Regions from separate parts of the Homo sapiens genome. Here all the other regions are reported to be linked to region 3. The links are microRNA targets in miRTarBase. Many come from high-throughput screens and were not tested one by one. Region 3 holds a microRNA gene; each other region holds the end of a gene's coding sequence.

The links. The annotated mature microRNA hsa-miR-6822-3p reads AGGCUCUAACUGGCUUUCCCUGCA and lies in region 3 at 1,170-1,193, shown strand. An mRNA with a match to its seed (bases 2 to 7 or 8) in the 3' UTR can be bound and repressed. Matches are read on the target gene's strand: a 7mer-m8 pairs with bases 2 to 8, a 7mer-A1 pairs with bases 2 to 7 and ends in A, and an 8mer does both.
Region 1: miRTarBase lists SLC35A1 as a target of hsa-miR-6822-3p. Seed matches in the 3' UTR shown: 7mer-m8 at 2,709-2,715.
Region 2: miRTarBase lists GOLGA7 as a target of hsa-miR-6822-3p. Seed matches in the 3' UTR shown: 7mer-A1 at 3,222-3,228.

Annotation. Positions count from the first base shown.
Region 1 is chr6:87,511,066-87,514,291 of GRCh38, reverse strand. SLC35A1 (solute carrier family 35 member A1) reads right to left here. Exons shown (of 8, transcript NM_006416.5): 8 at 1,956-2,893. The coding sequence ends at 2,766. It overlaps RARS2 (arginyl-tRNA synthetase 2, mitochondrial), which reads left to right. Exons shown (of 20, transcript NM_020320.5): 20 at 1-354. Among named protein-coding and RNA genes, the nearest start is that of SLC35A1, 40 kb to the right of the region's middle.
Region 2 is chr8:41,506,458-41,509,716 of GRCh38, forward strand. It overlaps GOLGA7 (golgin A7), which reads left to right. Exons shown (of 5, transcript NM_001002296.2): 4 at 602-664; 5 at 3,127-3,259. The coding sequence ends at 649. Among named protein-coding and RNA genes, the nearest start is that of GOLGA7, 18 kb to the left of the region's middle.
Region 3 is chr3:39,137,073-39,140,331 of GRCh38, forward strand. It overlaps MIR6822 (microRNA 6822), which reads left to right and starts at 1,134; the gene lies at 1,134-1,194. TTC21A (tetratricopeptide repeat domain 21A) reads left to right here. Exons shown (of 29, transcript NM_001366900.1): 25 at 123-315; 26 at 414-638; 27 at 1,195-1,315; 28 at 1,484-1,551; 29 at 1,639-1,828. The coding sequence ends at 1,716. RefSeq lists an enhancer at 1-75.

The sequences.
Region 1 (3,226 bases), not on the chromosome of region 3:
TTGCCCAGGCTGGAGTGCAATGGTGTGATGTTGGCTCACTGCAACCTCCACCTCCCAGGTTCAAGCAATTCTCCTGCCTCAGCCTCCTGAGTAGCTGGGATTACAGGCACGTGCCATCACGCCAGGCTAATTTTGTATTTTTAGTAGAGACAGGGTTTCTCTATGTTGGTCAGGCTGGTCTTGCACTCCCGACCTCAGGTTATCTGTCTGCCTTGGCCTCCCAAAGTGTTGGGATTAGAGGCATGAACCACCACGCCCAGCCAAAGTTAAACTATTATTCTGTGTCAGAATCTGTATTAAATGTGACTTGTCAAGTTATTCAGTCTTTATCCTTAAATAAATGAGTTATCTGAATTCTCTCATGGTCAGTAGGTATTTAAATAGACATTGAGTTTTTTAAACCCAAAGCATTGTGGTCTAATGGGGCTAAAGGATTTGAGTTTAAACTTTGGCTTGAAGTTTCTTACCATGTCATTCTTCCAGAAACTATTCTTATAACTGAAATGATTTAATGTTTTCATGAAATAAAAGAATTGGTGAGGGGAAAATATTATCAATTTTCTTGTAATTGTGGCTAGTTTGGAGTAAACATAGGGAGATCAAAAATAAGCACCGTTCTGTCAATATAGCTGACAGCTACTCCTAGAGACAATAGACCTCGTGCTTCCCTTTGAGTTAATATATACAGGGCTGGGCGTGGTGGCTCATGCCTATAATCCCAGCACTTTGGGAGGCTGCGGCGGGCAAATCACGAGATCAGTAGATCGAGACCATCCTGGCTAACACGGTGAAACCCCGTATCTACTAAAAATACAAAAAAAGTAGCCAGGCGTGGTGGCGGGGCCTGTAGTCCCAGTTACTCGGGAGGCTAAGGCAGGAGAATGGCGTGAACCCAGGAGGCGGAACTTGCAGTGAGCCGAGATCGCACCACTGCACTCCAGCCTGAGCGACAGGGCGAGATTCTGTCTCAAAAAAAATAAATAAAAAATATATATATATATATATATATATATACACACACACACACAGGTAACTCTTATTGTGTGAATTCAGGAACTAAATACATTTTAATAGGAAGGAATTACTTGTAAAGACGTTGAATTAGGATCTTTTTGTAAAATGTAGTCCATTAATTCAACCATAATTTGAAATGGAGTTTCTTATGGTTTCCTTCATGTATCTATCTTCATATTTTTGTGTGGCTTCATTAGATAACATGAGCATGGCTTAGGAAACAAGAGTAGGATGTGATGTGTTTGATCAGTACGGCCATTCCCATCAGCCAGCATTTCCATTCAGGTCTGCTATAATTTATTCTAAATGTTGCTAATAGTAGGCTTTTGAATACCAGTGACGGTCTATTTACCAAGTTAGCACAACTGAAGCTTCTCTAGTTAGAGTGAAAATTGTTTCATATTAGCAACTATGGCTTACCTTCTTAGTCCTAGAAAAGATTCAGCCTTGCAGTTCCAATTTAAGTGAATTAGCTCCCAGATAGCTAATTTTCGACTTAAAGTAGTGTCACATTTTTCTTAGCATAAACCAGCCATGGGATAAAAATATAAAGTAGGGACATGTTTTACACATCCAATATCCCTCTCTACTTGTTTGAAGAAACTTTCCCCTTCCAAGATCAGTAGTGTCTTCCCGAGTATTTGAATCGTGAGTGAAACCATACAGGAACAGTAATAGGTAAAGCCAGATCTTTACAAAAGCTGAAAAGACAACTGTCCATTAATTCTTAGAACCTAGACGCCTGTAGCCCTGATTGTGGACCTTCTTAAAAATTCTTTCTTTTTTGCTTAAGGCTTGCCAGAGTTGAGTTGATTTGCAGCCAGAGAACCCTAACCGATAGACTTCCACATATAGAAAATAAAAGTGCATTTCTACATATAGAAAATAAAAGTGCATTATCTTAATGGTCATATCTATAATATAAAGTGATTAAACAATTCTTTCTTACAAATAAAGTTTATTGCTGAATTTCCCCATTAACATTATAGAAAACACTGAAATTTCACAAATTATTGAGAGCCCAACAGTTAAACATACTTTATTTAAAAAAGTACAAAAGTGACATTAGAAATTTTTTTGAAGAAATGTGTATCATCTAACAGAAAAGAAATATGAACCAGATAATGAATGGCACAAATATAGCACTAAAGGGGTACTCACTAAAGGGGTACTCAGTCACCACCCAGAAATTGTCCGAGTTATGAAATAGATTCATTTTGAGAAGTTACACAGTTTGTTTATGAACTAGCCTGTCTTGTTTCTGCCTCTTGTAAGAAAAGAGCTAGGTCTTTATGCTGCTAGGACAAAATACTGTACATGAATTGGAGAATAAGGAGGGGTCATCCTTCTCCCCGGTACCGGAACAAGAGAACAGTTAGTACAGAAATGGCTTTGGCACTTTAACCCTTAGACATTGTCCCAAACCTTGTTACTTGAGTATTGTAGCCTTACCATGATTTTTTTTAACACCGTATCATCTCCATACTTTTTATTTACAAATTATATATACACACAATAATACAATTCCTTCATTCTAAAACAATAGTAGACCCCAAACAGGTCTACATTAAGTTTCTGTATTAGCAGTTCACTCAGATAGCTTCGTTTGTTTGTTGTTGTTTCCACATAACCGCACTGATCATGCCATACAGTTAATTTTTATTTGTTTATGCTACCTTCTGAGATTGACTTAAGGCTCTAGTTTAATGCAAATGGTTTAGTCTTAAAAGGAGTCTCACGTGAGGCTAAAATCACACACCAATAACTCTCTCCTTTGAAGCTGTTTCTCCTTGTTGGATGGATGTAGTGTCTTGTCTGGGTAATCCATAGAGATATATGGAAACACATACAAGAAGAGTACCCAGGGCAAAGGTGAGTGCTGAAAAGAAAAAAAAAAATAGCTTTATCTGTATGTGTGTCTTTAAAATGCCTAATGATCAGTTTAAAATTTTGAAAACTCTTAATTGTGGGTTTACACTATCAGATCATATTTTTATGATGGCAAGGTTTAGAAAGGTCTTCCATTACAGCCAAAAAAAAGGAGAGGGGGAGGCAGGGCGGGTAAAATCAAGGCAGTGTTTTGTTGATCACTGATTACAGACTTTTTAGAACATGAGTATGCCTAACTGACACTATCTGACCACTCTGACAAAGAACATAACTAATTTCCCTATAAAATATATAATTTTTTTTAAATGTAAGTATAAATATA
Region 2 (3,259 bases), not on the chromosome of region 3:
CCTTTGACATACTGTGCATATTTTTAGAGGCAGTAAGCTTTGAAAATCACTAAGTGAATTTGGTAAATAAAATTGCAAAAAACTAATTTAGCTTGATAACTGGAGTAATGGGTAAATAAATTTTTTTAAAAACCTAGGTCACATAATCCCAGGCCTTCCAGCTGATAATAATTTCAGCAGTTTTGTTATACTCTGCAACAATAGTTCTTAAACTTTCAGGGGTCATGAACCCTTTCCCAAGAAAAAAGTTTTCATATAATTTCAGGGTATTTTTAAATCCCTGAATTCATTACCTCCATGGATTCTCAGTTAAGAACTCCCTAGTTCAACAAATAAAGCATCGTTTTCAGAATTTATTTGTTTTGTTTTCAAAACATAAGTTATCAGTGTTTGGGAAGGAACTACATGTGGACTACTATAATTACATTTCTTAAAATTTTCAGCAAATTGGAGAAAGCAAACTTAAGTAGGAAAAATGTTTAATAATTGAAAAATAAAGCAAACTGAAAGCAAAGTCTGCAGATCACACCCTCCACCTTGCCAAGTCCCCCTTTGTGTGTTGTGTCCTGTAGTGTGTTTTCTTAACAGCCATGCTGTTTAGATTGAAATTACCATTTATGAAGACAGAGGCATGAGCAGTGGAAGATAAACCGAAGAATTAAAGGTAAATATGAAATGATATGGCTTGTATGCAGCTTTTGCAAGTTTAGAGGATGCATGAATATTCTTCCCCGCATGGTAAATAAATCATTAAATCACGCAGTTAAATAACAGTATATTTGCTGTGTTAGCTTAAGCTAGTCACTGTATTAGCTTGATATTTAAAATGTGTATTCGGCCCAAGTTCTATTTGGTGATAGAGAATTTAATTCTGATTTTTTTTCCTGCTGTATTGTGTTCAGACTGGTTTTGTTGTTACTTTGGTGGGGGAATGGGGGATGGCAGTTACTTGGCTTGTTTTAATATTTCAAAACTATCCTAGACATATAAATACTTGGGTTTTGCATATAAGAATGAGTTCAGAGATGTCTACCTATATGACAAATGGCTTTAATAAGCAAAGGAACATTTCAGAGGGGAGTGGGGAGATTCTGAATATTTCATTTATTATGTTTAAGTGGCTTCAGACCCCTGTGGAAGAAACCTTACCTACTGAGTAGAAACATAAATTTCATTCCTTTGTTTAAAGTATTAATGTCCTTAAATATCCAGATGCTGCCCTTTAATGAGTAAGAAACAAATTAATACTACTAAGAATCTCTAGGCAGAGTCACGTTGAAGCCCTAAGTACTTTAGCATAGCCTTCTAAGTGACAGGAAGTAGCACTTCACTATTTCTGCCAATTTTAGTTACGTGGTCTTCCTACAGAAAGTGTTCTGCTGCTGCGCTTTTCTAGTTGACTGTGCTTATAGGTATCTGTCACTAATTAATAGACAGCACAGACACAGAATGTACCAAAGCAGACACATGTCTTCCTAGGGCAACATCAATAACAGCTACCATTTTGAGGGCACGTACTATGTGCCTGGTATTGTACAAATGGTACTTCTGAATCTCACAAGAACCCTACAAAGTATTTCCCCATTTTATAGATGAGCAAACTTGGATACAAATAGATTAAATGATGTTCTCACAGTCACACAGTTAACGAGTATTGGGATATGAACCCAAGTCTGATTGATCATAAAACCCCTGTCTTTTACACCGTACTTCCTCTCAGTACTTGCAGCAGCAGGAACATGGAGAAAGGGAAGAGTTCATCAGATAATTCTAGAGGTTTATCCCCTTCTCTTCTTTTTCAATACTTTAAAAAAGAATACATTTTGTCTGCTCCTGTATGATTTATTCAATCCTGTAAGCCATGCAACATTCCAGAGCTGCCTTCTTTAGCACTAGTGAATGTGTCACCTGAATTCCTGAAAGCCAAAGATCTAAATCATGATATCTATCCTCTGCCATATGTTGTATTTCCTTAAAAAGGCTTTGTTTTGGAATACTTAGTGTTACTTGTCCATACGCTTTCTCATGTACAATTTTCAAACTGATACTTCTCAAACAACCAGCAACCTTCTGTGTGGCTTTTGTTCCATGCCATGGTTTGTATATCAGTTGCAGCTGCGATGACTTGGCACAGCCCATTTGTCATGACTCATTTTGCAGCTATTGTGTAATCATGTGTTTTTCTGATGTGTGAGGTTTGAGCAATTACACACCAGAGGCTAATCTATCAATATTCAAATAACTAGAATTTTGAAATGGGAAAGATTTACATTAATAACTTCTGGATACCCTCTTTCATGAATGCAGATATTTTTGTTCAACACAATTTCGTTTTGGGATTTGGGTGTTCCCAAGGTCCAGGATGCAATGTGAGCTGAGATCTTAGAGAAGGGGAGGAAACTCTAAGCATAATTTATTCAATTCTTCCATTTTTCTTCAGTCTGCAAGGTGTCTGCAATTTGAAGCAATATGTGGGAATTAGTGACTTAACAAAAGACTACACAAACATGAGGATGGCCTTTATTTTTAAAAGGAGCTTTAAACAAAAATGCCTTTCTTTAAGCTTAATTTTTATAATATCTTGCATATATCTTTATTATCACATTGTTATTGTTACATGCACTGGTGTTTTCTCTCTGGATTAAGATTGCCATCTTTATATAAAATGGAATACATGATTATTCCATCACAACTAGTGATAATAAAAACAGCTAATGTTTGTTGGCACATCTGTGCCAGCACTATTCTAAATGCTTAATTTTAATCATCACAACAACCCTATGAGGTAGATATTGTTATCCCTGTTTTTCAGATGAGGAAGCCGAGGCAGAGAGAACTTAAGTTGCTGGCCCAAGGACAAACAGCTAGTAGACAGCAGTCAAGGCAGCGTGGCTCCATGGTGATGTGCTTGGTCAGAGATCTGAATATATAGGACTTAGATTTGTAGACTATTGAGCTGTAGACTCATTTAGACAAATGGTACCAAGATATTTTAGTAGATAAAATTCTAGGTTAGTAGAACATAGACCACATGTTATAAGCTGATATCAGTTGATGGAAGAAAAATGGTTTTACAAGTTATTTTCAGGATCTCTATCAAACCTTTACTTCTCCCTCTAATTACAGATCCCACTTCCAGCCGGGCCCCTCATGTATCCACTGGCCGACCGCAGAGTGTCCCTACCTCCTCTCCAGAGCATCATTCCTTTCTATCTGCTGCCAGAGCCACGGTGCCATTTACTCCAAGGACTCACTTTCT
Region 3 (3,259 bases):
GGAGGCAGGGGCGGAACCCTGGGGAAGTTACAGAAAGCCTGCAACCTCTGGGTTGAAGCCAGGTGAGGGCCACACGGGCAGGCCACCGGCCTGTGTCTGATACCCAGGTCTAACACCTGCAGCTACATGGAGAAGAAGGAGTTGGAGCAGCAGGGTGTGAGCACCGCCGAGAAACTGCTGCGTGAGTTTTACCCACATTCAGACTCCAGCCAGACCCAGCTGCGGCTGCTGCAGGGCCTCTGCCGGCTGGCCACCAGGGAGAAGGCTAACATGGAGGCTGCGCTGGGCAGCTTCATCCAGATAGCGCAGGCTGAGGTGTGGCTGGTGGGGACTGGCGGGCATGGGCAGGTGGCAGGGCCGAGAAGACCAGGCGGCCAACACGTGCTGACGTCCACTTCCTACCTGGTGTGTAGAAGGACAGCGTCCCTGCCCTGCTGGCCTTGGCACAAGCCTACGTGTTCCTGAAGCAGATCCCCAAGGCGCGTATGCAGTTGAAGCGCCTGGCCAAGACCCCCTGGGTGCTGAGTGAGGCTGAGGACCTGGAGAAGAGCTGGCTCCTGCTGGCTGACATTTACTGCCAGGGCAGCAAGTTCGACCTCGCCTTAGAACTGCTGCGGCGCTGTGTGCAATACAACAAGGCAAGGAGCCACACACACACTAGGGCTGCGGGATGGCGGAAAGGATTCTAGGCATTCCAGGAAGGTGAAGCAGGCTTTGCAGGTAGAGGCCATATGGAATAAGAACTAGTCGGGAAGAGGCAGGCTGAGAGGGGCACATGGGCGACAGACCAGAATAGGAATGAGGATCAAGGGCGATGGACCAGGTGAGAGGAGGTGCACAGGGGTCGTGTTATGTCCAGAGGAGGGAACACTAAAGGACAGAAAGAGATGGGAAAGCTTCATGGGTTCCAAGCTGGAGGGACTTTTGCAGGTCAGAGCAGGCCAGGAATGGGAGTGGCGGAACAGGAGGGCTACAGGGAAAGGGGTTACGCCAGTGTCTGGGGTAGCTGAGAGGAGGGCACACAGTTGGCTTCTTGCAAAGGTTGGGGTACCCCTGGGGTCCCTTGGCAGTTTGGTTTATGGCAGCTCACTTCTGTCCCTTGCCTGCTTCTGGTTCTGGTCCCAGTCCCACCCTGGCCCAGGGAACCAGTTGGGGCTTCCGCTCTGCAGAGGCTCTAACTGGCTTTCCCTGCAGTCCTGCTACAAGGCCTATGAGTACATGGGCTTCATCATGGAGAAGGAGCAGTCCTACAAGGATGCAGTCACCAACTACAAACTGGCCTGGAAGTACAGTCATCACGCCAACCCTGCCATTGGTAAGGCAACCAGCCAGGGTGCACGTGAATGGACGTGGGAGGGAGGTGGGCAGGAGGGCCCCCACCATGACCCCAGAACTCAAGGCCTGTACCCTGGCTGTTATGAGAACCAGAGGGGTTCTCAGGTCACCAGGGTGCCACCATCTTTGCTCTCCATGTCCCCGGTAGGCTTCAAACTTGCTTTCAACTACCTGAAGGACAAGAAATTTGTGGAGGCCATTGAAATCTGCAACGATGTAAGCCAGCAGCCTTGGTGGGGAGGGCCTGGTGTAGTGGTGGGGAAACCTGCATGATACTGCACACCCATTCTCTCTCTGTTCCAGGTCCTCAGGGAGCACCCCGACTACCCCAAGATCAGGGAGGAAATTTTGGAAAAGGCCCGAAGGTCCCTGAGGCCCTAGCTGGGGTCAAGGGGCCTGGACCAGTAGAAGCCATCAACCTACTGAAGTTGTGTGGAGGGATGGAAAGTGGGTCAGTGGAGAAGGGATTCAGAAAATGACACATTCTTCCCCATTTCTATAGTGTATGTGGTTTATTTTGAGTCATGTCTCATCTGACCTAACTTTATGTTTTTAAGGCACAAGAAATTTTGCTCTGGGAAGAAAGACATCAACTGGCTTAACTTTTGCTGGGCTCATTGGGCGCTTTCTAACAGACCTCGCTTTTATCCCAGACTCTTTGAGGGGGCGGAGGGGAGCAAAGAGGGGGCTCCTAGTGGAATGGTGGTTGAAAAGAATCCCCTTCAGCTGTTTTTCAATGGTTGTTGCCCCTCTCCTGTCTGGTCTCCAGGATCCTGGAGCTAAAGAAGCAGATACTTCTCCCTGCCATGCTACCCTGAGTCTGCCTGGCGGTGGGCCCAGGATGCTGTGGGCAGTGGGCCCAGACAGGAGGATTAACTGCAGAAGGCCCGCACAGCTAAGGCCCTGTGTGAGAGGGCCTGCAGGGTGCAAGAGCCATTGTCCCACCCTGTCCATGCATTGTTTCCCTTGCCCCTGCCCCCCGCACCCCCACTCCCCGCCAAGTCCAGCTGGCTTCTTCTAGTCCTTACCAGTTTGGGACAAACCTGACTACCCTCGCCTGGCACAAGGAAATACATGCCAAGAAAAAATAGTTCCCACTTCAGCTTTTACAAAATACACTGCCTATCTAACATCCTACAGAAACCCTTTTAATGTCTAAGGGGGCAAATGCAGTGGTTCCTATTTAGATGAATAATGTTAACTGCAACTGGCAAGAGGGTGACAGAGGGCACCTTTGCTGTGCTCCCAATACCAGTCTTCCTTGATGTCATTAAGGATGCCAATAATGGGACAGTCTGGCCTCAGGACAATCAGGAAGCCTAGGATCTCCCAATGTGGCTTTCCCGGGTCCCTTCCCCTCTCTGGGTCTTAGTGTCCCCATTTGTGGCAGGAAATTAGATGTCTCCCAAATCATGGCACAACTCTCTGCCAGTGATACACAGCAAACATTTTAAAGTTTAATAACTATGTGTTTTTAAAAACACATCATTTTTACATGGAAAACCAACTAGCACAGAAAAGTCAGGAATTTATGGGTGCTGTTCCATGGGATGGGTTTAACTTTTAAGCATACTGATATAATTGATTTAAAGAAAAATTATTTAGAGTAAGTAGAATGCAGATATGATATGGGCAGAGTTTTCAAGAGCAGTTGTCCAGTGACTAAGGTTTGGGAACAGTGGACAGATAAGGGTCCCTTTGGAACAGTGTAACTCGGATGGTGCTGAGCCTTGTTTTTATAACACACTGCTGATCACATACATGGTTTGTTGATATGAGCTGGGGATCTGGAATGCTTTCTCCAGGTTACTACCATTTTTCCTACGGGAAAACCCAGTCCCCTTTCTGTGATCTGCTTTACAACCCAGTTTTGTTGGGACAGGTTTGTTGACAGGTCTATCTATATGGAGAATGATCCTGTAAA